Homo sapiens: one gene and its partners. The protein of the gene in region 1 purifies or fractionates together with the protein of each later gene. This does not show direct contact. Each region holds a gene or a part of one and is shown on either strand. Other genes may lie near its edges. The genes, in order: WSB2, AMBRA1, ACIN1 and CCDC9.

The links.
Region 2: the proteins of WSB2 (region 1) and AMBRA1 purify together in Homo sapiens (co-immunoprecipitation; 3 studies listed by BioGRID and IntAct, with this or other methods). This does not show direct contact.
Region 3: the proteins of WSB2 (region 1) and ACIN1 purify together in Homo sapiens (affinity purification with mass spectrometry; 2 studies listed by BioGRID and IntAct, with this or other methods). This does not show direct contact.
Region 4: the proteins of WSB2 (region 1) and CCDC9 purify together in Homo sapiens (affinity purification with mass spectrometry; 2 studies listed by BioGRID and IntAct, with this or other methods). This does not show direct contact.

Annotation. Positions count from the first base shown.
Region 1 is NC_000012.12:118,058,159-118,065,766, forward strand, and holds the start of WSB2 (WD repeat and SOCS box-containing protein 2), read right to left. Parts: upstream 3,022-7,608; 5' UTR 2,891-3,021; coding exon 2,878-2,890; intron 1-2,877. UniProt on the Homo sapiens protein: May be a substrate-recognition component of a SCF-like ECS (Elongin-Cullin-SOCS-box protein) E3 ubiquitin ligase complex which mediates the ubiquitination and subsequent proteasomal degradation of target proteins.
Region 2 is NC_000011.10:46,542,022-46,549,042, forward strand, and holds part of AMBRA1 (activating molecule in BECN1-regulated autophagy protein 1), read right to left. Parts: intron 6,480-7,021; 5' UTR 6,360-6,479; coding exon 6,225-6,359; intron 5,855-6,224; coding exon 5,796-5,854; intron 5,276-5,795; coding exon 5,092-5,275; intron 3,756-5,091; coding exon 3,583-3,755; intron 2,021-3,582; coding exon 1,954-2,020; intron 1,378-1,953; coding exon 1-1,377. UniProt on the Homo sapiens protein: Substrate-recognition component of a DCX (DDB1-CUL4-X-box) E3 ubiquitin-protein ligase complex involved in cell cycle control and autophagy.
Region 3 is NC_000014.9:23,064,123-23,071,143, forward strand, and holds part of ACIN1 (apoptotic chromatin condensation inducer in the nucleus), read right to left. Parts: coding exon of another isoform or gene 7,003-7,021; intron 5,496-7,002; coding exon 5,354-5,495; coding exon of another isoform or gene 5,258-5,353; exon of another isoform or gene 4,580-5,257; coding exon of another isoform or gene 4,490-4,579; exon of another isoform or gene 4,343-4,489; coding exon of another isoform or gene 4,139-4,342; exon of another isoform or gene 3,238-4,138; intron 1,887-3,237; coding exon 1,844-1,886; intron 367-1,843; coding exon 233-366; intron 136-232; coding exon 1-135.
Region 4 is NC_000019.10:47,259,504-47,266,524, forward strand, and holds part of CCDC9 (coiled-coil domain-containing protein 9), read left to right. Parts: intron 1-817; coding exon 818-919; intron 920-1,084; coding exon 1,085-1,336; intron 1,337-5,099; coding exon 5,100-5,183; intron 5,184-5,269; coding exon 5,270-5,443; intron 5,444-7,021. UniProt on the Homo sapiens protein: Probable component of the exon junction complex (EJC), a multiprotein complex that associates immediately upstream of the exon-exon junction on mRNAs and serves as a positional landmark for the intron exon structure of genes and directs post-transcriptional processes in the cytoplasm such as mRNA export, nonsense-mediated mRNA decay (NMD) or translation.

The DNA of each region.
Region 1 (7,608 bases):
AAGCTATGACCCCAGCCAGCAGGAAGCTAGGTGATTTTTCCTGTATCAGGACATGTACATTAGATATTCCACCGGCCTCAAAAGCTTTCCTCAGTTGCTCCATCTTATCATTCAGGGATTGGTCCTCATGTCACCTTCTCAGAGACCATCCTGGCCTCACTATCTAAAGCGACCATACACTTTCCTTTTTTATTTTTTATTTTTTTTGAGACAGGGTCTTGCTCTGTTGCCCAGGCTGGAATGCAGTAGCACCATCACGGCTCACTGCAACCTCGACCTCCCCAGGCTCAGATGATCCTCCCATCTCAGCCTCCCCAGTAGCTGGGACTACAGGCACATTCTACCATGCACGCGCCTATAGTTCGGTATTTTTTGCAGAGATGGGGTTTTGCCATGCTGCCTAGACTGGTCTCAAACTCCTGAGCTCAAGTGATCTACCCAAGTTGGCCTCCCAAACTGCTGGGCCACTGCGCCTGGCACCATTCACTTTCCTTTAACCATTTGATTTTCTTTATAACCATCACTTAGATATTTTCTTCTTCTTTTTTTTTTTTTGAGATGGAGTTTCACTCTTGTTGCCCAGGCTGGAGTGCAATGGCGAGATCTTGGTTCACTGCAACCTCCACCTCTCCAGTTCAAGCGGTTCTCCTGCCTCAGCCTCCTGAGTAGCTGGGATTACAGGTATGCACCACCACGCCTGGTTAATTTTGTATTTTTAGTAGAGACGGAGTTTCATTATGTTGGTGAGGCTGGTCTCGAACTCCTGGCCTCAAGTGATCTGCCCGCCTCAGCCTCCCAAAGTGCTGAGATTACAGACGTGAGCCACCCCGGCGCATTTGGTTGATATTTTCTTGATTGCCTGTCATTTTTACGTATTTATTGTCTGTCTCTTTCTGAACCCACCCAAACTTGCCAGTTCACTGCTATTGGGCTACACTGTCTAATAGGGAAATCACATGTGGTTACCAACCACTTGAAATGTGGCAAGTCAGAATTCAGATGGGCTGTAAGTAAAAAATACACAACACGTTTTGAACACTTAGCACAAAAAAAAATCTAAAACATTACATTACAATTTATTTGATTACATGTAGCAGGAATATTTTAGACATGTTGTATTGAAAGAGTTTTTAAATTGTCACCTAGTTCTTTTTTCTTTTTTTTAATGTGGCTACTTGAACATTTTAAATTACATACGTGGCTCACATTAGACTTCTGTTGGTCGGGGCTGGCCTAGAGGGTGCCTGGCACATAGTAGACGTTCAACAAATATTTGCTGAATGAATAAGTGAAGTCTAACCATTGCTCTGAAGATTTCAACTGTTGCCCATTGTATTTCCTTTACAATGGGCTTTATTCCATTTGAAAATAAGTTAAAACTCTGGCCTTTTTTGTACAGTAACTTGGCAGCTCTCAACAACCCTGCCCACACCCTCAAAACGAAGTTGTCAATCTTTAGGAAAACCCCAGAACTGGAAACAGATTTCTGTTAAAAAGGCAGGCTAGCTACAGATTGCTTTCAGATTGAACTGTAAGGAGGCAATGGAAATCAAACGGAAGCTATAAAAAGATTCACATAGGATCTACACAAACAGTAGGGGCCCTTTTAAAAAGAATTCTACGGGTAACACTCACTGAAAAGAAAGCCCTTATCTAGATGGGAAGGAGAGAGAGCTGCCTTTAACTCAATGCCTGACTTCAGCAAACAAAGAAATGTCATTTCCTAAATTAAAAAGTAACACCACCCCAGGGAATACCCAGATTTCAACCTTCCCACCCACAGTAACAAGCCATCAGCAATCAGAACCCTCCAGACCAGGATGAAGCTTGAACTTGGCTGCAAGATTACCATGAAGTTCTGGAACAAATTCTGAGCCCTAGGCCTTGAACCTGCTCTGAAAATTTCTCCTAAGGAAATTACATTTAAACTCGGGTCCTTCAAGACCTGGGACTCCCGGAATCAATTCTAAATCTATCCCAAGTGGGGTTCCGAGGGAAGGTCGTTGGAGGGGAGAGGGCCAAGGCGTGCATGCGTCTTGGGGTTTTTTTCCCCTTGCATAAGAGACACACCTTTCCCACTGAGATTTTATGTTCATCTGGGCTGGCTTGAGGTATATCCAATATCCTCTGACTTCCACGCTGTCTTCTGATGGGGATGGCAGTTAACAAGAATAGAGGCAAGGTCCCCACCCATCAGTGTATCCTAAATTTGCCTGATCATACATGTCACCAGGGATCAGCGTCTCCAGTCCCGCCCCACCTCCACTGACTTAATCTCCAGTGGGAGAGGCTGGGAATAGATTGTTTCAATAGGGAACCCAGACCCCAGACCCCATTTTTACCGGGTCCCAGCCACCCTCCGAGGAAGGTACTAGGATTATCCCATTTTGCAGATCAAAACTGAGACGTGGGTGGCGGTGGTTCAGTGGCTTGTCCACTGTCACGATCACACAGCTTGTGAGGGACAGAGGTGACTCCCATCCAGACATGCAAGTGCGTCCCCTGGCACCTGGGTACCCAGGGGCACCCACCCCCTTGGGGATCTCCGTTTTAGGGCTTGGTGCCCCCCGCCCCGAGTCCCACCCGGGAGCCCCCTCTGTCCCGGTCGGGGGATCTCCTCCCGCAGAAGCCCGATCTTCCCGATCCTGTCGCCGGCGGGAGTCAGGGTGGCGGCCACTGACAACGAAAGTGAAACAAAGCTGGTCGCCGGGCGCGCACCCCCGCCGGCCCCGCGCGGACCTCCCAGGCCGGACGCCCCCGCCGCGTCCAGCCCCCGCCCCACCCCGCCCAGCCCGCCCCGGGGTCGCCTCCCCCCTCCCCGGGGAGAACGGGCCAGGGCCCCGCCGGGCGGGAACGGGCGCGCCCGGCCCCACTCACCTCCGGCCTCCATGGAGGACGCGAGCGGCCCCCGCGGCAGGCGGCGGGCGCCTCAGCCCCCCGGGCCGCGGGCCCTCATGCCGCCCCCGCGCCGCCCGCCCCGGCCAGGCCGCCGCCGCCGCCCGGAGAGGCCATCAGCTGCTTCCCGTCACATGGCGGTGGGCGCGGGCGGAGACGCGCGGGGGCGGGGCGCAGGGGAAACGGAGGGGGGGTGCGGACGGGATAAAAACGGTGGGGGGCAGCTGAGGGAAAAGATGGAAAATCGGGGAGGCGGTACGCTGACGGGATAAAAGCTGAGGGGTTGCTCAGGGGAAACGGGGGCGGGGAAGACGCGCGAACCAGATAAAAATGGGGCAGGGGTGGGGGGAGCTGAGCGGAAACGGGGTGGGGCGCGAACGGGATAAAACCCAGGGGTTGTGCGGGGTCCTGAGGGGAACCAGCGCCGGATAAAAACGGGGAAGGGAGGGAGGTGAACAGAGCTGAGGGAAACCGGGAAAAGGGGAGCGATAGAAACCGGAGTAGGGGAAGCCGGGCTCAGGGGAAAAGGGGGTGTTGGAGAGTGGTAGAGCCGGGCTGAGAGAAAAACCAAGCAGGGGAAGCGGCGATCCGGGGAGAACGGAGAGAGGGAGACCGAGGGCTGTGGGGGTAAGGGGAACCAAAGGGGCTGAAGCGAAATCGAGGGGAGGGGCAGGTGAAAATGGAGCCATGCGAAGGCCGATGAGGGGGGAAACGGGTAAAAATGGGGGCGGGAGAAATAGGTTGGAGGGAATACTGGCCGAGAAGAAACCTGGGGAGAGCTGGGCTTAGGGGAAAATGGGGAGGGGGTGGAAGGAAGGTGTAATAACCGGGTGCTGGGGAGGACGTAAGAATTGGGGGGTGCGGCGAGGGTCAAGGCTAGGGTAAAACAAGGGGGGCTACTCAATGGCTCCGGTAATGGGAGAGGGAAGTGAGGAGAACACGGGGCGGTGGGGAGAGGAGGGCAGGGTGAAAACCGGAGTGGGGGTGGGAACGAGATAAAAAACGGGGCAGGAGCGATTCGGAAGAAGACTGTCCCCTTACCTACCTACGGCGACAGCCTCGCCTGTCCCCGTCCCCCTGAGAAACCTGCTCTCCCTGTCTACCCGCATAGCCTCAAGAAATGGCTCGCTTGGGTCAGACGCCCCCTTTTTAACATTCCAGGGCCAGGGCAGGAGTCATCATGGAGGCTTTTCATGCCTGAAAGACCCCATTTCTTAGTTGTCCGGTCCCCAGTAGTATCAGTGGCTTGGGGATTTCTTACTGAGCTCAGCTCATTGTCCCCAAAATGCCTCCCCTTACCCCCAACTCGAGCGCTTCCCTTTCCTGCTTTGGGCCCAAGCTCTTCCCGCGGTTCTTGGTGTCAGCTTCATTCAAGTCACTCTCCCGCCTCTCATTCCTTTCTCCCCGCCTTTCTTCGCTTCCCTCCAAGTGCCCTCTCCATTTGCCGGTCACTGGTCCCAGAGCTCCGGATCGCAGTGGTTCCATTTTAAATTTCTTTGCTTCCTAACGCAACCTATGTTTTCTACGGTAACTGAGGTTCCCGTGTTCTTTTTCACCATGGTCTCTCCGTTTTAATGTTTCGGGTTTTTTTACCCAGGCCCCTGTTTTATGAGCCCTGGGTACGTCCTTCCTGTGTCCCGTTTGGCCTCCTGGGTTACACTCCTGTTCACCCCGCTTGGCCGGTTTTTTTTTTTCTTTTCTTTGAACCTGCCGGTTTCTCAGTCTCCCCCTTTTCCGCTGGCTACCTGTCCCTTTCTCGCCGCCCATGTTAACTTTAGCATGCCCCGTTCTCTCTCTTCATTTTCCACTGGGTATTTTTTATGTTTCCCAATTTTAAAAACGGCCCAGCGCACCCCTTTTTTTGGGACTCCACTTTTATCTCTGGCACCAGTGTCGGCCTCCTCCACCTCTGCTCCCATTTAATCGCTAATTTCCTGCCTCCTGAGGACCCCCGTTTTATTGTCCAGGCTCCCCCCTCCCATTTTTCTCTTCTCTAATTTTCTGAGTCTCCATTTTTTGTCTCCCAAATTCCTTCGATTCCTGGAGTCTTACAGGCCTCGTTTTTATGTACACGTCATGGAAAAGAATAAAAGGGTAAGGTCGCGGGGCGCGATGGCTCATGCCTGTAATCCCAGCACTTTGGGAGGCCAAGGCGGGCAGATCACCTGAGGTCAGGAGTTCGAGACCAGCCTGGCCGATATGGCCAAACCCAATCTCTACTAAAAATACAAAAATTAGCTGGGTGTGGTGGCGGGCACCTGTAAACCCGGCTACTCGGGAGACTGAGGCAGGAGAATCACTTGAACCCAGGAGGTGGAGGTTGCAGTGAGCTGAGATCTTGCCATTGCACACCAGCCTGGGTGATGGAGGCTCCGTCTGGAGGAAAAAAAAAAAAAAAAAACAAAAAAGGCGGGGCTGAGGTGAGAAGAATATTGTTACCAATTTTTAAAAAGCTAGTAAAAAAAATTTTTTTTGGCAAGTTCGTTTTTCCAAGTCTTTCAATTTACTAACCAGGTCTCAATCAAGATCACAAAAGCACTTACTTAAAAATAGCTTTATTCCATTATCTTTTAAAAAAGGCATATGATAACCTCAGAACTAATTTCTCCCAACCTCCCCCCACCACATCTTAAAATGTAAATAATGGAGAAGGAGCTGCTTATTTTTCTTTGCAGCAGTTCCTGGCCAGTCCCAACGTGAGAAATATCAGTTGGCACTTATTGCATCATAATACATTTTGCCTAGTAAGGATGATTTTCTAAGTCTCAGTGCATGGGTTATTGCAATTTTCCATCTTGTGTTTTCCTGCGGCAATTATGGGGCTTGTATGTGCTTGTGAGAATTGGGGCTAATATCAAAGCCACAGAATTGTGGAGGCCCCCTTCCCAGGCTCCACCAGGGTTTGAGAAAAACAAGAAAAAAGTCAGTTGCAATGGACCTGAAGTGTGTATCTTCCTGGTCCTGATAAATAGATCTCATGGTCTCTAAGTTAACAATACATGCAGATAAGATTTTTTTTAAAGCACAGTGTAACAACTTGGACTTTGCCACACAAACTGTAATCCACTGTCAACAAGCTTGTGGATTTGGGCATGGATCGTCTTAAAGAAGCCCGAATTCTTCAAAAAATCCTTAAAACTTGAAGACCTGGATTTTACCTGACCCAGGATATTACTGTGCACACAGGACTCAGATATGTGACAGCAGTCACAGCTCAGCTGGTCAAAGGTTTATAGTGTTTGACACCAGGACCATGAAGCTCCCATTTGGTAGTGGAAAAACCCTCAAATATTTCCTATCAACAGATGTGTGTGCTAGAGAAGAGGAAGTTGTGGAAAATATCCCAGTGATCCTACAAAACATTCTCTGTGTTCCTAGCTAGGGTTTTTTTTTTTTTTCACCTCAACAGTTTTTGTGTTTTCTTTTTTTAATCTTGTTGCCTCTGAGTAGTAGACTCTTCAATTCTGGAATTTGGTTGCCGAAGACTCTAAAGGAGAGACTCACTCAGTAATTCAGTGACTTTAGAAGCAAGCTGAGTATCTCATTCTAAAATGACACTGATTTACACTGTTGAGAATGGTTAAGTACGTGGGGTACCTTGCAGCAAAAGACAAAAAGCAAAAAGCCAGTAGACCTGCAATTCACAGCTATTCCTGAGGGGTGCACATTGCAGCCCACTCTTGAGCTCCCCAGTGTTCTGAGCAGGGGACAGGGCATACTTCTAGTGATTTGCTCAGTTTAATCCCTTCATCCAAGAAAACAGACCTTCCCCAACCACACCTGCAGGGTTACTTCAGACAACCAGCTTCTCATTTTAGAGTCCCAGTTCCTAGAATTGGAGAAAGGAAGTTCCCCTTTAAGCCCTAGGTCCTGCCCACTAGAGCAGATACGCAACATTAAAGAGTGCAAATTCAAGTCAGTTTTTCATATTTAGCAAACATCCATTGCACCCTTATAAGGTCCTCGACTTTAAGAAATTTATATGAAATCGGAAAACTTAAATCTTGAAACTATACAAGGATCTACTGGAAGCATCAGCAGGCTAAACTCATCACATGGTATTTTCATTCCAAATTTAGTGTTATTGATCAGTGTACCCTCAGAATATCCTTAAGAAGCAGGAAGGAAACAAGTTTTCCTCTTCCCACTTCCAAGACTGAGAAAGAGTCCAGATGAGCTGGTTTGCCCAAGCAATTCTTATCACCAGATACTCCGTTATTAAACGTGTCTCCTGCCTTCTTTGAAAGCAACAGGAGAAATGAAGCATAGGAAAGTCTGCAAGCTAACAGTGTATCACCTAGGAGGCTTGTATATAAATATGAAGCTCTGCAAAATGTAGTTATAATGAAAGGCACTTCCTATTACCAGCTCCCTAACTCTTTTTAAAAGAATTCTATCTCCAGGGAAATAAAACTGGTTAAGACAGTGCTCTGATATGCTTAGTTTAGTTCCTTCATCCAAGAAAACAGACCTTCCCCAACCACACCTGCAGGGTTACTTCAGACAACCAGCTTCTCATTTTAGAGTCCCAGTTCTTAGAAATGGAGAAAGGAAGTTCCCCTTTAAGCCCTAGGTCCTGCCCACTAGAGCAGATACGCAACTTTAAAGAGTACAAATTCAAGTCAGATTTTCATATTTAGCAGGTGATCTTACAAAGATATTTTTCAATAAATGGATTATGTTTTTCAATGAATGGATCTTACAAAGATGTTT
Region 2 (7,021 bases), on another chromosome or scaffold:
GCTGGACTGGGTGTAAATTCTTTCCCAGTGGCCTGTCTCCTGGTTAAAGGCCACCCCCACAGTCCTCTCCTCCTGCGGACTAGCAGAGCTGCTCAACTCCAGCCTGCTGGAGCTGGGCGTTTGGCCCTCAGTCCGCTCGAGAGGTGGCAACTGGCTGCCACTTGATGGCACACTCTCAAAGGAGCTGGGGACCTGCCAAGAGGAACTAGCCTCGCCAGAGGAGTAGTTAGGTGTGGTTCTTTCCCAGCGCAGGGTATCGTTGTTGAAGGTCAGGAGATTGTGGCAAGCACGACAGCGATTCAGGTGGCCACGGGACAGGTTGGAGTTGTTCTCACTGCTGTGTGGGGTGGGCTGGTGGGAAGGGCCTGGCCTCTCAGATTCAATGTTATTGTTGAGCATTTCCTGGGCCTGTTGGGTCTGGGGAGCTTCCCCACTCAGGCTCTGATCCAGCTCCTGAAGCCGGTCATACTCCAGAAAGAAGCGTCTCAGGTCACACTGAAGCTCATGGCGAATGCTGCCCGAGTTGTTTTGGCTGGAGCCATTCCCTCCATCTGACTCAGTTGCCAACCCTGATGCCGGAAAACCCCTCCCTTCTGTGGCTGAAGTGTACACAGATGCCTGAGAGCCACCTTCCTGCTGTCTCAGCACAGACAGCAAACTCACCGAAGAGGCACTGGTTCTGGGCGGGGGCATGGATTCCGCCTCAGAGCGGGAGTTCAGACTGAGTACTGTCCGGGTCCACTCAGATCCTGTCAACCCAGGAGCTATTTCTCGGTGATACCTAGAAGGGTGGCTAGACAGAGGCCCTCCCAAAGAGCGGCGGGTAGGACCCAGACTGAGGTTGCGGAGCGTGTTGCCGGCAGTGCTGCTCTGGACTGTACTGAAGGCAGACGGCCGGTTCAGGAGGCCCTGGTCCTGCTGCGTTGACGAGGCCTGCTCCGGGGGATGGAAGGGCTCGGTCTGTACAAAAGAAAAGGAAGGGGTAGTAGCTCTGGCAGAAGCAGGGGGGACACTGTCCTGGTGTGGCAAGAGGGAAGGAACTCGAGTGCCAGAGCAGCGGCTGCAAAGGCACAGGATCCCAAGGTGCTGGCAGCACTCAGCTGTGGGGTAACTGACCCGCTGTCGGAGCCTGATGTAAGCGGAAGTCCTGGGGCGCTCCGTGGAGGGCTGAGGGGGAGGCGGTGGGGGTGAGGGGGTAGCAGAATCTTGCACTGTGCTTTGCTCTCCCACCTGGATGCCAGAAGAGCGGGAGGACAGCATGTGCAGGAAATTGTGGAGGAGAGGCGTCCGGCGAACTGGCTGTGATTGCAGGAGGGCACGCTGACGGTAGTGGGATAATTCTGTTCCATCTATGGGGATCTCTGGTTCGTCATCACCCTGCAACGTGGACCAGCATGGGGCAGGGGGTAGAGCAAGGCAGTTAGGTAGAACCTCCAAGTAAATCAAGAAAAACTAACCACTGACAATCATCCAAGGAAAACAATGTTCATAGGTAGGAAACAACTCTCTACCCCTGAAGCACTGACAACTGGCCTCAGATTCAAAATAATCACATGGTATTAAATTTTCCACTCCCAATTAGCAGCATATCTGAATGAGTGCAGCTGACAAACCAATTGTCTTACAAAAGACATCTCCCCATGACATGGAAGCAGTGAGGGGAAGCAAAATGTCAACCAGCCAGAGGCACATGAGTGACAAGCTATCCAACACTGTCTAGTGATGATAAGGGTTACTTCTAATGAGGCAATCACTGGAGGGTTTCAGAATCGACTCTCCTGTCAAGATTATGGCTATAACCCTGAATATACAGTCTGAAGCTAGCTTTAAATCTTGACTGGAAAGATAAGACTTGGGTATTGAGAATTAAAATCCAATATAATCAGAATTGGAATACTAGTTAAGAAAAGAACTCACAGTTTAGCTGGAATTGGAACTGCTGGACTAACTTACCTGTTGATTAGAGGGGTTAACAATTGCTGTGAGTAAGTAGTGTCCAAGTGGATCAAATCTCACCAGACTAAAATCACAGAAGAAAGAGACAAAGACACACATAGAGAGATTATGTTAACTGAGAAGAGGAAACTTGTGTTTGAATTTATAGCAATCATTACTGATAACTGGTATCACTCAGGTATCCACTTCATTCAAGACTTCCAAAACTTTCAAAGAGATTAAAATAGTAACACTCAATACTTCTTGCCAGAGTAAAGGAATATGTATCACAAAAATAACGATTTCACATGAAAAACACCTAGAGTTGCCATCCCAGGAAACAGCTACCTTAAGCACACCTTTGCTCAAATACAAGAGTTCATCCTAACCGTAAAGCATAAAATGCTCTCATACTCTGCCACAGAATCAGTTCTTCCCTCATATGGCAGCTACACCGGCAAGAAGCATGAATCTTGGTGGCAATGAACAGTCCCAGCATTAAGTGACATAGCTGAAACCAGAAAATTGGCCTGTATTCGACTGGAAATCCAAGAGGACCAAAGAAACACAATGCATCAACTTTAATACAGACAATATGTTTTGATCTTGAGGACTAAATAAATGTCAATTATGTGCTTACATCTCCATCTTCCAGTTTGATAAACACAGACAACCCACCAAGGTATCTAAAATACCACCCAAACTTCTTTCAGGTTTTCCCAAAGAAGTACTATCCAAAACAGTTAGCTTTGAAACTAAAAGAGAGTCTAATGACCCTGATCTCCAAAAACCAGAAGATGAGGCCAATAAGGGAAAGCTGAAATGAACAAAATGAATGTCTCCCAGCTGATTAGTCAGCTGCTTAGAAAGCAGGAGGCGGCCAGGTGCAGTGGCTCATACCTATAATCCCAATACTTTGGGAGGCTAAAGCAGGAGGATCACTGAAGGCCAGTAGTTCGAGACTAGCCTGGGTAACACAGTGAGGCCCCGCCCCCCAAATCTCTACGAAAAAATTTAAAAATTAGCTGAGAGAGGCTGCACACACCTGTAGTCCCAGATACTCATAAGACTGAGGTGGGAGGATTGCTTGGGCCCATGAGGTCAAGGCTGCAGTAACTTGGGCCCATGAGGTCATGACTGCACAACTGTACTCCAGCCTGGGTAACAGAGCAAGACCCTGTCTCCTTAAAAAAAAAAAAAAAGCCGGGGGGGGGGGGGTGGTGGTGGGCATGGTGGCTCATGCCTGTAATCACAGCACTTTGGGAGGCTGAGGTGGGCGGATCACTTAAGGCCAGGAGTTCAAGACCATCCTGGACAACATGGTGAAACCCTATCTTTATTAAAAATACAAAAAAATGAGCCGGGCATGGTGGTGGGTGCCTGCAATCCCAGCTACTCTGGAGGCTGAGGCACGAGAATCGCTTGAACCTAGGAGGCAGAGGTCGCAGTGAGACAAGACTGCGCCACTGCACTCCACCCTGGGTGACAGAGTGACACCCTGTCTCAAAAAAAAAATAGGAGGAGCTATGAGGATGACAACTTGCCCTGAGCAGGGATAACAACCTGACTTCCAAGGTGACAGCCAGTAGAATGTTCTCTATCACGTCAGTCCTGTGCCAGACAATGCAGATGGGGCAGCGCACTCACCGGACCCGTTCCATCTCACTAGCTGTCTTCACCACAGCAAAGGGTTCCCGTCGACTCCAGTCCCAGAAGTGGATCTCATTGGCAGTGGCAATCAGCAGGAGCTGAGCCGTAGGGTGGAAAGCCAGGGAGGCAATGGCATTGTTGCTATCTGTGAACCAGCTTTCACTGCCACCCTGTGAATGAACCAATTCCAGATATTCTCAGGTTACAAGCTACCAGCACACTGGGAAGTCAATTTCAAGAAAGGTCCATTTAAGGTAAAATGACTATGTCTAGGGACTACTTTAAATACATCCTCTGTAAAAAGATGTAGAAGATCAGCGATCTGGTAGTGCCACTAATTTATCAGATAAATACTATACAATCAGTTCAGTTCTTCAAATTAGTCACAATCTACAAGCATTAAGCATATATACACAGTTCCTATTTCTTTTTTTTTTTTTTTTTTTTGACAGGGGGTTTCATTCTGTCACCCAGGCTGGAGTGCAGTGGCACAATCTCAGCACACTGCAACCTCTGCCTCCTAGGCTCAAGCAATCCTCGCACCTCAGCCTCCCAAGTAGCTGGGACCACAGGCGCATGGCACCATGCTCAGCTAATTTTATATAATTTTGTGTATAATATTTTTGGTATAATATCCTGCCCAGGCTGGTCTCAAACTCCTGAACTCAAGCAATCCTCCTGTCTTGGTCTCCTGAAGTGCTAGGAATACAGGCGTGAGCCACCGCGCCCAGCCCACAGTTCCATGCAAAGCCTGAGAAAAACTCAAGCTCGGTGCACAACATGGTGCAAGACAACCCGCTAGCCAGTTACTAGGACAAAGAGGATCTTGCTTTGATGATCATGATCGGAGTACAGGAATATCTGTACTTAGGCAAAGATGCCCTAAGACAACAGAAATCCAACCTGAACATATCTTAGAGCCTCCTGTACTATGTCACAACGGGCTGAAGGAAGCAAAAGTAGATGTTCATCTTAGCAAGAATGGAAGACAATCTCAGGGCATGCTTAAGCTATTGCAAAAAAAAAAAAAAGGAATGGAAGACAGGGAATTAGACTTCCTATTAATTAAGTGGGCAATGTCTACAACAATATATTCAGATGTAGTCCTAAGAATCTGGCTAGGCTCTTCCAGAATTAAAAAACCAATGGTAAACAAGTCTCTGCATTTAGAATACCAAAAGAAGCCGGGCATGGTGGCTCATGCCTGTAATCCCAGCACTTTGGGAGGCCGAGGCAGGCAGACCACTTGAGGTCAGGAGTTCAAGATCAGCCTGGCCAACATAGTGAATCCCCGTCTCTACTAAAAACACAAAAATGAGCCAGGCATGATGGCACATGCCTGTAATCCCAGCTACTTGGGAGGCTGAAGCAGAAGTATCACTTGAACCTGGGAGACGGAGGTTGCAGCGAGCCAAGATCACACCACTGGGCAACAGAGCGAGACTCCGTCTCAAAAAAAAAAAATTAGAACACCAAAAGAAAAGGGTATCTTAAGGAAATACTCACGTGTAAATCCCAAATCCTAACCTCCCCATCTAGGCAGCCAGAAGCAATAAGGCCTGAGATGGTGGGATGAAAAGTGACACACCATGGAGTACGGCGGTGTCCAATCAGGGAATGAACACACTTGCCAGTCTTCACCTCCGTAATATAGATATTATGGTTCACATGGGTGGAGGCTAAGAGAGTCCTAGAAAATCAAAGAGTAGAACTGAATTCAGAAGCATGTGGAAGGGTAACCAATCTTATCAACTTTGGACGACATAGAATATTGATGCTACCTGCCAATCCCAACATGAAAGAAACTAAGCTTTGTATGTTAGGCAGTATATCTACAAACAGAAATATTCTGATCTTTAAAAGCTTTTGGCTTGTCCACACTGTCCCCAAATGACACATGCCACATTCGGAAAATATTTTTTCCCACTGGAAAAACCATCATACCACTGGTGAGCTGTATCACACAGGCAAATGATTGTTATTGAGAAACTTTCCAAGTTTTGATCCTCTCAGTTTCCTTTGCTTGTTCTCATGATTTTTCAGGTTAGCACTGCTCATCTACTTTCTTTCCCTTTCCGACACGGGGCCAAAGTGCTGTTCATACAGTACTTCAGAGAGACTTTAGGGACTGACTTGGAAGATCAAGCCAGGCCAAATATACAGAAAGCACTGTTATCACAAATCTTAAGTTATAGATAAATACTGAGTACCTGTCTGGGCTGAAGGCCAATAAGAAGGTAGAGCGTGGACTATCCGGCAGTTCTACTCTCTGGGAGACAAAAAAAAAAAAAAAGTTAAAATACATGATTTGTAGACCATGGTTCACCGTATCTCAAAAGCACATTAACCATTCTAGATTAGCATTCACAGTGTAGGCTTAAAAACTGGAGACAATGATCAAGCTACAAATTGAGAGAGATAAACCTAAATTACCTTCAGGAAAACTGTCTAGCTCTAAAGGAAAAAGATATTTCTAGCACATTAGTTCTTTCAAATTTACAAACAACTCCCTAAGTCAGATATGTCAACTCTCCCACACAAGATAAATATATCCCAACTCTCTGCTGTTAACCCATTCTAAGGTCTCATTCTACCATCACCAGCACAAATCCTATGTGAAATATAGCCATTTTCCTTACCTTGCCCTCCCATTTCATCCACCGGGTTTTATCTTCTACCAGCTCCTGCAGAAGCCGCTGAGCTCCCATGGCCCGAGCACCCCGTTCTCGCCCCCAGAGTATCCGGACAGCATTCTTTTCTGGGACAACCTTCATGGCGCTCAGTAGCCACTGTCACACCAGGCCCAGGAAATGAAGGAGCAAGTAACAGCTCCAACACACTGAAGCAGCTAAAATGAGGCCATACAGGTCCTTGTAAGTTGTCCTCATGGAAATCTTAAGGAACAAAGAATAATGTCAAAGAACGACTTCTGCAACGAGAAGCTTCTAATTGCAAATACAATTCTAGCTCAAAAGGGAAATTATACTTTTCCTATTTAATGACACTTTCTCAGAAAAGACCCTTCCTCCCAGAATTTTTCTTCCAAAAATATTTCATACTCTCATATTCTCCATAGCTCAACCTTGTAGCTAAAGAAAGGATCAGGCCAAGCACAGTGGCTCACGCCTGTAATCCCCGAACTTTGGGAAGCCAAGGAGATTGGATTGCTTGAGGTCAGGAGTTTGAGACAGCCTGGCCAACATGGTGAAACCCCGTCTCTACTAAAATACAAAAATTAGCCGGGTGTGGTGGCAGGCACCTGTAATCCCAGCTACTCATCAGACTGAAGCAGGAGAATTGCTTGAACCCAGGACGCAGAAGTTGCAGAGAGCTGAGATAGTGCCATTGCACTCCAGTGCCTGGGCGACAGAGCAAGACTCCATCTCAAAAAAAAAAAGATTATTTAGGAGTACCTTTCTCACTCATTTTCTCTTTC
Region 3 (7,021 bases), on another chromosome or scaffold:
TATTTTCAGCCCCTTGTCATGGGTCCCATCATCGCCATTACGCTCTGTCTCATCCTCAGAGATGCGAGAGTCATCAGCATGAAGATCCACAACAGCCTCCTGCCCCGCCAGGGGTTTGATGTCGGGGATGAGGCTCTGGGACACAGATACCCCCCACCCCGTTACACTGGGCCCATGTCTACTCCCACCTTAACAGGTCTCATCCTCCCTTCCCTGGCTCCTCCCACCTCACCTTTAGTGATTCAGTGGTGATACTGATGGAAGGTTTCTTCTGTGTGGTGGCTGTGCTGGCTCCCCAGCGTCGTTTCCGACCAGGCTGGCCCCCCTCTGTGTCACTGTTTCCAGCTGGCACCCCCTTGGTAGCTGCTGTCCCCAAGAAATAGACCCAACAGTTAGATGGTCTCAGGACCTCTGCTAGTTCAAACCGTAATACCTACAGGTTACCTCTGGCTGGAGTTTTGGTAAAAGGTTAACTTAAAGAAATCATATTTGGAGGCTGAGTGTGGTGGCTCACACCTGTAATCCCAGCACTTTGGGAGGCCAAGGCGGGTGGATCACGAGGTCAGGAGTTTGAGACTAGCCTGACCAACATGGTGAAACCCCATCTCTACTAAAAATACAAAAATTAGCCAGGCGTTGTGGTGCATGCCTGTAATCCCAGCTACTCAGGGTGCTGAAGCAGAATTGCTTGAACCCGGGAGGCGGAGGCTGCAGTGAGCCAAGATGGTGCCACTGACTGCACTCCAGCCTGGTGACAGAGCAAGACTCCGTCTCAAAAAAAAAAAAAGAAAAGAAATCATATTTGGGAACTGGGGAAACCATGGCTTCAGACTGAACACTGATCTAAAAGCAGTAAGGGAGGGGTAGCTAGTTTGATGAGCCGTTTAAACTTTTAATGGTAGACAGTAATATCAAGTAGTGTGGAAGAAAAACTGAGAAGGACATGTAAATGCAGAAGAAACAAGAACACTATGTGATACTAACATCTAGGCAGAACTAAGATCATGATGGGATCTGGTCTTCCTTTAATTTTCACACTACAGATTGATATTTAAGTTATAAACATCTATTATACTTTTGTAATCTAGAGTTCCTCATTGGGGAAAATGTTAAAATTGTTACTGTTTGAGGTGTGGGGCACTTTCATTTCCTTGGGTGCTCTCTTAGAATAACGCATAAACAAGGTCAGGCACGATGGCTCACGCCTGTAATCCCAACACTTTGGGAGGCCAAGGCAGGCGGATCACAAGGTCAGGAGTTCAAGACCAGCCTGTCCAACATGGGGAAACCCCATCTCTACTAAAAATACAAAAATTAGCTGGGCATGGTGGCGCATGCCTCTAATCCCAGCTACTCAGGAGGCGGAGGAGGATTGCTTGAACTGGGACCCGGAGGCGGAGGTTGCAGTGAGCCAAAATCGCACCACTGCACTCCAGCCTAGGGTACTACAGAGGGAGACTCCGTCTCAAAAAAACAACAACAAAATACCCAGAATAATTCATAAACTGCTAAGCATCACATAGGAGTCCCTGAAACTCATTCCTTGTTGAGTATTCAGGTATCTGAAAGAATAAATGCCTCTAAGGCTAAATGGGACATGGTCTCAGACACCTCACACTGTATCTCATTAAAATGTGACTGGAGCAATATGATGGGGATTGTCTCAAGTTTTGAATTCCAAAATGAAACCCTACATAGGAAAGGATTCAGATTTGCTAGGCACAAGGGGTGGGGCAGGAGGGAGTGACCCAAGAATGCCATTGAGAATGAAATTCTGGTTCTCAATGAATGCTGGTTTTTATGGTATTCCTGACTTTTATCAGGGATTTGGGGCTGGACTTACAGACAACGGAGATCTTCCTCTTGAATGATTTGGGCAGCGAGCTCTGTATGAAGAAGAAAAAGGGGAAAAAAAAGAGAAAGAGAGACACCCCACAGAGAGGGGGGAAGGAGGTTAGATGGGGCAGTCTTAGCTTAGCCTCCAAAGACACAGATAGAGTGAGAGAGAGAGACAGAGAGAGACACAGAGACAGACAGAGACCAAAACAGAAGCGGCAAACGGCAAAAACGAAGCAGAATCAATGCAAGTTAGAGAAAAAAATAAAACTAAACATCAGAGCAGGGAAAAGTCATCTACTCCGTATCACACCTGTGTATTAGCTTAACCAGAAATAAGCTGGAAGAGGAGTTCAGTAGCCTCTCAGCCCCCTAAAGATGTTGGTCATACCCCCTCTTTCACCGTCTGAGTCGAGAGGACACCAAGCCAAACAAACTGTGCCCCAAACTGGGTCATCTAGTCCTCCCAGGTCCTTCCTTGCTAACTCGAGGAAACAAGGAAAACCAACTTTGGATGGCAACTTCAACAAGGTAACCCTCCTTTCTTCAATGGCCAGACTGATGCCCACTGACAATGGCTTTGAGATGCTTGGACAGCAGACTGTCATGTCAAGACTGCCCAGACCCCCACCACACTGTGGAAAAGGGCAGCACCAGACCCACTGGAGATGAGGCTCTTGAGCCAAGTGCTAGCAAAAAGAACTCAAAGGTGTCTTTGATAAAGGAAGGTTTTTATGAAGGGCAGATTGTCCCCAAGGAGATCCTTAGACTTTCCAGCCACCGCAGGGAGCTCCAGCAGAGTCTTACTGTTTCCTCTCCAACCAGGGCTCAAGCCTTAGGGGCTCTGCCAAAGACCAGAAGACATCTTTGGGACAAGTCTCTACCCCAAACACTCAGTGGGTGAATGACGAAAGACTATGGGGGGCGGGGGAGAAAAGTGAGAGAGAAAAAGGGAATAGAGTATTTTCAAGTGTAGGTGCTTATTTCTGGAAAAACTAAGACCACTCTACCACTCTTCTAAAGGGTAGGGCAGAAACCTCGTGATGAAATCCCTTTCCCATCCACCCCCACCCGCAGCCCCGTTTGTGTCGTCTAACCAAGTCTCCTTGGTCTCTGTTAAGGGCCAGCCTGACCCCTAGCTGGGCCGCTCTCGATGGGTAAGTTAGTGAGAAAAACAAAACAAAAAAAAAGGTCTTAATTAAAACAGGAAAAACATGAACCAAATAAATAAATAAAAGAAATCAGAAAAAATAAAGATATAGAAAAAAATAAAATAAAATATTAAAAAAAGAAGAAGAAAATAAAGAAGAAAATAAACTAGGAATATGACAAATGTTCCAGGTACCATCTCACACCTGGGATCTTCAGTTCAGCCAATCGCACCTCACTGTGTACTGTATCTAGTCAACCGCCGGTCCAATCAGAATGAGCCCTCCCTGCTAGGCGCTGTGCAATTGGTGGGGGGTTGGGTTGGCAAAAAAGGTGGGCGCACGGCGTGGTAGTCAGCACGGCACTGCCAGAGTCCTCCCAGGGGCGCAGGGGGGGCGGGAGGGAAACGTGTGGGGGGACGCTGCCCAGTTTCCATGATGTCAAGACAGTTCACTGGCGGTGGCCAGGCTCAGCGAGGGATAGAGGGGGGAAAGGGGCAGAGACATCAGTCCTGGCCCTGAAGGGACATCATCTTGCAGTCCCTGATGAGATGGCCTGTGAGTAGCAGGAATGATCCTTGCCTTTTATCGTGAGAGGCAGGCAGGACCCTATGTCCACCAGTGGCAAGCTGCAGCAATAACACCACCCAATACTTGGAATCCAGGTGATGACTCCAGAGTCCCTTTCTCCTCTGCCTGTAACTGGGGAGGGGGTCCTCTCACCGAGTGGGATCATGGAGCCTCTGATGAAGGTAGCCTGGGGGTAGGTGAATACCCCAGGACCTGGCAGACATTCAGCAGCAAGGTCAGAATACTTCTCTTCGGAGAGTTGTGGCTGGCATCTCCTCAGGGACTCCAGCTGAGACAGTGGTTCCAGTCAGGTGGATGAAATGAGTCCCTGCCTCCAGGGATGGAGGAGAAGTTGGAGCAACCAACATGCTGCCCTTCACCATGGACAACAGGGACCAAAGGAAAGTCCATCTGATGAGCAAGTGGTGACACATGGGCTGGGCTGTCATCAGCATTAAATCCCCAGGGGCTCAGACCCTAGACTCCTCTGCACGGTTCCTAGTCGTCACAGCTTAAGTAGAGGGTCCCACTCAGTGTTTTACAGCATGGCACTGCGATCACAAACTTTAGGAGGTCTTGGTGCCCTAGATGGGGATCCCAACAGTCTGTAGCAAACAAGGCAACCCACAGTCCTCAAAAGGGCAAGGGCATGTGGGCAGGCGCCCCAGCACTGGCACAAGCTCTTCTTGGGGTGTCCCAAGTAGGGAGATGATGCAAGTCCACCCCTTTCCAAATGTTTTTTGCTTGCTCAATACAAGTCTCTCCAGAACAGTGTTCTTCTTGGCCCCCTGATGTAAGCAAGACAGGGAGGCAAAAGGGGGCCCATCACAGGAGCCCATATACATGCCCCCCTCTGGCCAAGACACCTGGATAGCAGACTTGGCTCTGATTGGGCAGCTCAGTAGCAGCGGGTGGGTCCAGAGGAAGAGGCGGCATCAGCGATTGGCCAGTTGGGCAGGGTTATATTTTACGGGCGGATTACCGTACATGAGGTACTTGGACAAAGTTTTACGGGGAAGAAGGACCTTGTAATAAATAATATTCTGCACATCAAATCACTTTCACCGGCCCCCACCCCCGCAACACACACCAGAAAAAGGCTACACACACAACAGTCCCTCCCACCTTGTTACCCCTCTCCTAAACCCAGCTCATTCTTTCTCAATTACTTTAAGAGCCAAGAAGACTTCGCTGGCTCTGATGGGGGAAGCCCCCTGAAGTGGGTGCAGGACACAAGATAACATATGCCAAAAAAGGAGGTAGAGGGGTCACAGGTAACTGAGAATGGGCCTTCCGGATCACAAGTGCTGGCTTCTAAGTAGCTACATCTCTGCAGTCAGACCACTGGAGGGCAGAGGAGGAACAAAAATTTCTCAGCATGGCTGGTCTGGTGAGAACCACCAATGTCCACTAGATGGCGTTGGGCTCCATCAGGCTTTTAAAAAGGAGGGAAAGCTAAAGGAGTTACCACCAGGAGAAGCTTGGGAAGACAGCAGGAAAAGCTGAACATAAATCTTAGATAAAGGGCCATTATCAGACTTTCCCGTTAGTTACAAACGTCTAGAGTCTGGGCACTACTTCCCCAACAAGGAAAGGAAAATGAATGAGCCCTGTCCCCGTCACAAGGGGTCTCCCTTGCTAAACCAGCGAATTCTCCCTTGGCCCTATTCTGATCCAAGTCCCTGCCTCATCCCTCCTTTAAGTTAACCCACCGTGTAAGAGGGATCACTAGAGTGCTCTACTCTTTCCCCTAGGTCCATTCCTGCCCACCCGCCCCAATAGGTGGCTTGGATGTTTACCTCTTTCTTCTCCTCATCTTCAACACTGCCCTCCGGGCGGTCATCATTGCTGACTTGGTCTGCAATAGGCATGGGAGGTTCTGGAACATCATTTTCAGGTCTGTTTTCACTTGTGTCCATGGTCACTTCCTCCTTCTCCTCACTGACAGGAGGGGGGAGTGGTGGTGGGGGGGCGGGCAGAAAAGAACCAAGGGGAAGAGAGAGCAAGATGTTAGTTACTGGGTCAGGAAACCCTCCTGCCTCATCACTTGGGTGGGATTAGGAGGGCTGCTTTTCTGATCAAGGTTAGAGACCTTGTCCCAATGGGAAAAGTGGGAAATAGATTTTCCTTGGGGAAAGAGCGTGGATCACAGCAACCACATCCACCTATTGCCCAGATGAGTTAAAAGTTGTCATTTGTGGGGTTAGGACTCCAACTATTCTCAGGTAATAACTCACCAGAGTACTCCTATATGAAAGGAGAAAAACCCTCCTCTGAAAATAGTCCCACAAAAGTGACTGTGATTTGCCCACAACCCTGTGGCCTCAGTCTCCCTGGCCAAAGGCACCTTTATATGGCAAAATTGCACGAGAAACGAAGGGAAGCCCGATTCCCTTAAAAAGACAAGAAAGAATGGCCAAGGCTTTGGCAAAAAAGCCTGACCTGTGTTTAATCAACTGCTTAATAAGTAAAGGCCTGCTGATCCTCAGGATCTGGAGACACCAGCATGGAGAAAATGGTGGGGGGTGGGGGGTGCGGGGCGGGGGGTGGGAGCTGCAGGGAAGAAGCAGGCCTGGTGAAGGTTCAAGCTTCAAGGACCCTCTCTCATTCAAAAGGAAAAATTAAAACTGCTGAATTGAGTATGAGAGCTCAGAGATTAGGGCCACTTTTACCTGCTCAGAGGTGTAGAAACTGTTCCTACATTCGGCTTTCACCCAGTTTCTCCCACTCCCTCATTCCAACTTCCAAGAGATAAAGAGAGCAGGCCTCCTAGTCAGGACACACCCTCCCCCACACAGGCAGCTTCCCCCAAGAACACCAAACCCACTCTCCCACTCTTAATCTCACAAGTTAGCTCCCATTTCAGGCAAAGAATCCCAGAGATTCACTTCAGATAAACTATCTTTCCACCTTTGATTTCTGTCTTCGTCCCCAACTTCTATCTCAAATCTCACCCCCTCTACCACCCAAACACCAAGCAAAAAAAATCAAATCAAGATGATCAGAGGCCTAAGGCTCAGGAGAGGGGAAACCAAGCCTCCCAGGCCGATAACCACCACCAGAAAAGTCAGCATTCCCAACAGGCTGACTGACTGACACTCAGAGGTCAGAAGAACCTCCCTAGAGCAGTCAAGAAGGGATGCACTAGGGGGGTTAGGGGGAGGGGAAAATCGGAACTGTGCCCCCAGCTAAACAGGCCCCCAGAGAAACACGAGATTTAGCTGCTTACATCTAGAGAAAAGGCTTATACAAAAAAAATATCTATTTCCCATACAGAAAGGGCATGTGGGGCCAATTAGAAACTGGGCAGGCAGGACAAAGGGGGAAGGCAGAATGACTGAAAACAAACCAAAACGAAAGACGGAATGAAAGCCATGAGGAAGAGAAGGAAGACGAAGGGAGCTAGGGCGGCGGGGAAAAGGCATACATGGAAATGTGAAGCTCTCACCCTTCTTTGCTTTCTGATA
Region 4 (7,021 bases), on another chromosome or scaffold:
ACTCAGTTACTGATGGGCAGTTCAGGGCAGGGGGAGGAAGAGGGAGGATTTAGGACAAGGCTGCTGAGTAGGTGATGTGGCTCTCCCTGAGATGGGATCTGGGAGGTGGCATGGGTTTCATTTATTCATTCTTCATGTATTCATTCATTTTAAAAAAGGCATATTGAATTTCCCTTGTGGGCCAGGCAGCGTTCTAGACTTGGGATACACGTCAGTGACATACATCACTGAAAGCAGACAGACATTCCTGTCCCCAGGCAGATTCTGCCGTAGTGGAGGAAGCAGACAGTGAGCGAGACGCATATGGTGCTGGGTGCAAATGGGATGAGAACAGAGAGGGTGGCAGGGGAGCTGGTTTCCACAGGGTGCTCAGGGAAGGCCTCACGAGAAGGCAGCATTGGAGCAGAGACCTACAGGAGGTGAGGGGTTGGAGGGTCTCTGGGAAAAGTGTTCCTGGCAGAGGGATCCGCTGGCGCAAAGCCCCTGAGGCAGGTTTCAGCCTGGTATGTTGTGGGAATAGCAAGGAAGCCGGAGTGATCGTGGGGAGAGGGTGAGAGATGAGGTCGGGGAGGTACCAAGGCCAGACCCCACGGGTCCCACAGGCTGTGGGGAAGGCTGTTACTCAGAGGGGCACCACAGGAACGTTCTGAGTGGGGCTGCAACGTGCTGAGGTTTGAGGGATATGAGCGGCCTTCTTGTTCAGAGTCCAGGAGAGAGGCCTGGGCTGGGGCCAGACTTAGGAGGAGTTCAGGGGTCTGGGAGTCCGTCTGGCAGACAGGGCACCTGATGCTTCCCTACCCCGGCTGTCTGCTCCTAGGAGATTGAGGAAGACCGTAAGAAAGCTGAACTTGAGGGAGTCGCAGTCACAGCTCCCCGAAAGGGCCGCTCAGTGGAGAAGGAGAACGTGGCAGTGGAGTCGGTGAGCTCGTCACTGGGGTGTGGGACCCTGAGGATGGGGAGGGGCAGAGGGTTGAGGCCTGGGACCCAGGAGCCCCCAGCTGTCCTGCACCAGTGGGTGGCCTCCATCCTGGCCGCATGCCTCCCTGCCCCAGTGACTGTATTTTCCCCATCTCCCCTCTTCCAGGAGAAGAACCTGGGTCCTTCCCGGAGGTCTCCTGGGACCCCTCGGCCCCCAGGGGCCAGCAAGGGGGGCCGGACTCCTCCACAGCAGGGAGGCCGGGCCGGCATGGGCCGAGCATCGCGCAGCTGGGAGGGCAGCCCCGGGGAGCAGCCTCGAGGAGGAGGAGCTGGGGGCCGTGGCCGGAGGGGCCGGGGCCGAGGTTCACCTCACCTCTCTGGAGCTGGAGACACCTCAATCTCTGACCGTAAATCCAAGGTAGGAGCTAGGCAGCGCCTGGAGCCCTGGCTGAGGTTCTCTGTTGTCTGTTTCTGTTTTTTCCTCCTCTCAGATGCACATTTGTCCTGTGTGTCCATCTTTCAGTATCTCTCTCTGAGCCTTTGCATCTGGCTCTGTTTCTCTCTTCCTCCACCTCCTTCTCCTCCTCCTGCTCCCCCTCTTCTAGTTCCCCCTGTTCCTTCCCTCTCACGCCTAGAGCTCGTGTGTTTTTCCTTGTCTCTTTCTCTCCTACTCCTGCTCCCCGTCTTCTTGTTCCTCCTCGCCTTCCTTCCCTCCCCTCTCCTGCTTAGTGCTGCGTGTCCCTCCCTGTCCCTCTCTGTCTCCCTTTTTCTCGCTCTCTGGTGCATGCTTGCCCACTCATCCTCCGTCCCCATCTCTCCTCCCTTTCTGGCACTGTGTGTCTGTCTGGTGGGCTCTCTCTATCTGGTGTGCTTGTGAGCACAGGCTCTGTGTGGCATTCTGTTTCTGTGTGTTTCTCTTGGTCCCCGGCTTTGGTTATGGGGAGCAGTGATTTTACTGTAACTACCTCACTCACCCCTGACGTGCAGGTCAGCAGGGTGGGAGTCTGTCTAGCTGAGTGGCTTACAGCCCACCGTGGACATGGGTTGAATCTGGTTCTGTGAGCTACCTGGCCTTGGGCAGCTCACTTCCCCTGTGAGCTTCTGGTTCTAGCACTTACACGGGAATAAGAAAATTCAAAAATTAGCTGGACGTGGTGGTGGGCACCTGTAATCCCAGCTACTTGGGAGGCTGAGGCAGGAGGATCACTTAAACCTGGGAGGTGGAGGTCACAGTGAGCCGAGATCATGCCACTGCACTCCAGCCTGGGCGACAGAATGAGACTCTGTATCAAAAAAAAAAAAAAAAAAAAAAAATGCTGGGCGTGGTGGCTCACGAGGCCTGTAATCCCAGCACTTTGGGAGGCTGAGGTGGGCGGATCACCTGAAGTCAGGAGTTCGAGACCAGCCTGGCCAACATGGCGAAACCCCATCTCTACTAAAAGTACAAAAATTAGCCGGGTGTGGTGGCACACGCCTGTAATCCCAGCTACTCGGGAGGCTGAGGCAGAAGAATTGCTTGAACCTGGGAGGTGGAGGTTGCAGTGAGCCGAGATTGCGCCATTGTACTCCAGCCTGGACAACAAGAGTGAAACTCCGTCTCAAAAAAAAAAAAATAATTAGACTTAAATTGGGCATGCCAAGCTGCTGTCACACAAAGACTCCAAAAATTTCATGACCTAAGTGGAGTAGGAGTTTATTTCTCCCTTGTATGCTGAGCCCTGCAGGGAGGTGGGTGGTCCAGGGGGTGAGGCCCTGCTCCATGATGTCACTCAGGGACCCAGGTTCCTGCTTTTTTTTTTTTTTTTTTTTTCTTGAGACAGAGTCTCACTTTGTTGCCCAGGCTAGAGTGCAGTGGCATGATCTTGGCTCACTGCAACCTCCGCCTCCTGGGTTCAAGCAATTCTTGTGCTTCAGCCTCCCAAGTAGCTGGGATTACAGGTGTGCACCACCACACCCGGCTAGTTTTTGTGTTTTCAGTAGAGATGGGGTTTCGCCATGTTGGCCAGGCTGGCCTTGAACTCCTGACCTCAGGTGATCCTACCGCCTCGGCCTCCCAAAATGCTGCGATGACATGTGTGAGCTGCTGCGCCCGGCCTGGTTCCTGTTTTTGTTGCTTGGTGGCCCCTAGGTCCTGGTCATTGTCTGTGGTAACAGCTGGGTTGCCGACATGGTTGCGGTTCAGTTCACAGGAAGGGGAAAGATAAGTCTGCTTTATCACTTTTGGTCATGTCCTGTTGGTGAGAACTTAGACACCTGGTCATACCTAACCTCAAAGGAGACTGGGAAATGAAAACGTTGTCTACAGCTGGCTGGCTATTTGCCCATCTAAAATTTTGTCACTAGCTTGGTTACTAGTAACAAGTAGTTACTAGCTACTTGGAATGCTGGGTGCTGTGGTATGGGCTTGTGGTCCTAGCTACTTGGGAAGCTAAGGTGGGAGGATCGCTTGAGCCCAGGAGTTTGAGACCAGGCTGGGCAACAGAGTGAGACCCCATCTCTATAAAAATTTTAAAAATTAACTGGACGTGGTGGTGTGCCCCTGTGGTCCCAGCTACTTACTTGGGAGGCTGAGCCAGCAGGATCACTTGGGAGGCTGAGCCTGGGAGGTCAAGGATGCAGTGAGCTGTGAACACACACCACTACATTCCAGCCTGGGCAACAGAGTAAGACCCTGTCTCAAAAAAAAAAAAAATCAATAAATTTTTGCTACCATGGAAGGAAGAAGGGGAGAACGGATTGTGGTTGGTGGGGGTAGGTCACCTAACCATCTGCCAAGTAATTACTGTTATTACCACCACTATGATTGCGGCAACCTTGGTGTGCCAGGGCCCCCAGCACCCTGACACTGAACTCGCAGGTTCAGTGGTTTGCTAGAAAGACTCATGGCTTAGATTTATCACAGTGAAAGAGATCACAAAGCAAAATCAGCAGGGGGCGGGGTACCTGGGCTGAGGTCTGGAGGAAACCCGGCATGAACTTCCAAGAGTCCTTTCCCTGTGGAGTCCCAGGGGATGCGCTGAATTCCTCCAGCACTGAATTGTGACAACATGTGGCTTACCAGGGATGCCCACGAGAGATTCAGCACTCCAGGTTTTTAATTGGGGGCTGGTTTATTTTTATTTATTGTATTTATTTAGTTTTTAAAATTTCTTTTTGTTTTTGAGATGGAGTTTCACTCTTGTTGCCCAGGCTGGAGTGCAGTGGTATGATTTCGGCTCACTGCAACCTCCGCCTTTTGGTTTCAAGCAATTCTCCTGTCTCAGCCTCCCAAGTAGCTGGGATTACAGGTGCCCACCACCATGCCCGGCTAACTTTTGTATTTTTAGTAGAGACGGGGTTTCACCATGTTGGCCAGGCTGGTCTCGAACTCCTGACCTCGTGATCCACCTGCCTCGGCCTTCCAAAGTGCTGGGAATACAGGCGTGAGCCACTGTGCCCGACCCGTTATTTTTATTTTTATTTTATTTTATTTTTTGAGACAGAGTCCTACTCTGTTGCCCAGGCTGGAGTGCAGTGGCACAATCTCGGCTCACTGCAACGTCCACCTCCTGGGTTCAAGTGATTCTCTTGCCTCAGCCTCCCGAGCAGCTGGGATTACAGGCGCCCACCACCATGCTTGGCTAATTTTTTTCGTATTTTTAGTGAGATGGGGTTTCCCCATGTTAGCCAGCCTGGTCTCAAACTCCTGACCTCAGGTGATCCACCCACTTCGGCCTCCCAAAGTGCTGGGATTACAGGCGTGAGCCACCGCGCCCGGCCACTTTTAAAATTTTTTGTAGAGACAGGGTCTTGCTATGTTGCCTAGTCTGGCCTTGAACTCCTGGGCTGAAGCAATCCTCCTGCCTTGGCCTCCCAAAGTGCTTGGATTAGAGGTGTGAGCCACCATGTCAGCCTGGAGGCTAGTTTTGAACGCAGGCCCCTTCTGTCTAGTATGTACTGAAATTCCAGACCCCCCAGTAGGAAGGCGAATGCAGCGTACAGCGTGTTGTTCGCATAGTCCAAGCCTGGCCAGCCAGCCTCATCAGTTCACTGCTGACCTGGAGCACGCTGAGAGCAAATGGTCAGATGCCAGCAGGCCAGTCCGAGGAGAGGAGCCTCAGGCCTGCTGGGCAGCCCGTCTCCTGCACCGGCAGCTTAATAGTTCTCCCTGAAGCTGGGTGTCCCTATCTTTATCCCCCCAGGAGTGGGAGGAGCGGCGCAGGCAGAACATTGAGAAGATGAATGAGGAGATGGAGAAGATCGCCGAGTATGAGCGCAACCAGCGGGTCAGTGGTGCGGGTGTCCCCGAGGCAGGGCCGAGCTGCCTGGGCTGCGGGGAGCCCGCGCCAACCCCCTGCTCTGCTGCCTGCAGGAAGGGGTTCTTGAACCCAACCCAGTGCGGAACTTCCTGGACGACCCCCGGCGACGCAGCGGGCCCCTGGAGGAGTCTGAGCGGGACCGCCGGGAGGAGAGCCGCCGGCACGGCCGCAACTGGGGGGGCCCCGACTTCGAGCGGGTGCGCTGTGGCCTTGAGCACGAGCGGCAGGTGGGTGTTGGCAGTGAGGACACCTCGGGGCTCTCAGGGCTTTGATGGGGACTGCATAGCAGGAACCAGACAGATCAGGGCCATGGGGCCTCTCCTTTTTTGTGCCACAGCACAGGACTTTTTTTTTTTGAGACGGATTCTCGCTCTGTCACCCATTCTGGAGTGCAGTGGCACCATCTCGGCTCACTGCAGCCTTTGCCTCCTGGGCTCAAGCAATTCTGCCTCAGCCTCCCGAGTAGCTGGGATTACAGGCAAGTGCCACCACACCTGGCTAATTTTTTCGTATTTTGTAGAGACGGGGTTTCACCATGTTGGCCAGGCTAGTCTTGAACTCCTGACCTCAAGTGATCCACCTGCCTCGGCCTCCCAAAATGCTGGGATTATAGGTGTGAGCCACTGTGCTTGCCCAGGATTTTAATTATTAAGGATTTATGGTATGTTTTGTTTCCTGCCAAGGTAAATCTCCCCTCATTGTTAATGACACCAGCATTTATGAGGCACCTACCACATGGCAGGTGCTGTGTGAGGGGTGGGGACCTGGCCTAGAAGAGGAGGCAGGGGCAGTGTCCTTGCACTTGGTGGTCCACCCCTAAATTGTCCGTCTGTTGGTTCTTCTGTCAGTACCACGTGGCTCTAGTTGTTACAGCTTTGTGGTATGTTTGAGGGTTTTCTTGTTACTAACAGTATTGTTTACTGGGCACTTACTATGTGCCAGGTACTGTTTTAGGTGCTGAGGATAAGAGGTTTTTTTTTTTTTTTGAGATGGAGTCTTGCTCCATCGCCCAGGCTGGAGTGCAGTGGCGTGATCTTGGCTCACTGCAAGCTCCGACTCCCGGGTTCACACCATTCTCCTGCCTCAGCCTCCCCAGTAGCTGGGACTAAGGTGCCCACCACCATGCCCAGCTAATTTTTTGTACTTTTAGTAGAGATGGGGTTTCACCATGTTAGCCAGGATGGTCTCTATCTCCTGACCTCGTGATCTGCCCGCCTCAGCCTCCCAAAGTGCTGAGATTACAGGCGTGAGCCACCGCTCCTGGCTTTTTTTTTTTTTTTTTTTTTTTTTTTTTGAGACAGAGTCTTGCCCTGTTGCCTAGGCTGGAGTGCAGTGGCGCGATCTCGGCTCACTGCAAGCTCTGCCTCCTGGGTTCATGCCAGTCTCCTGCCTCAGCCTCCCGAAAAGCTGGGACTACAGGCACCCGCTACCACGCCCAGCTAATTTTTTGTATTTTTAGTAGAGACAGGGTTTCACCATATTAGCCAGGATGGTCTCCATCTCCTGACCTCATGATCCGCCTACCTTGGCCTCCCAAAGTGCTGGGATTACAGGCGTGAGCCACCGCGCCCGGCGGGAGAAGAGTTTGGAGGCAGAGCCCCTGCCTTGATGAGGTTTCTTCTGGTGGGAGCTGAGTAAATGAAAATATAGTGAGATGTGAGGTCCTACCAAGTGTTGTGGAGAAAAATCCAGCAGCTGAGGGGACAGAGGGATGCTACTTAGGAGATCTGAGAGGGCCTCTGTGAGGAGGTGCCACCTGAGCCTAGTTGATTGTGATCTCTGCCTTGTCATCGCTTCCCTGTGTG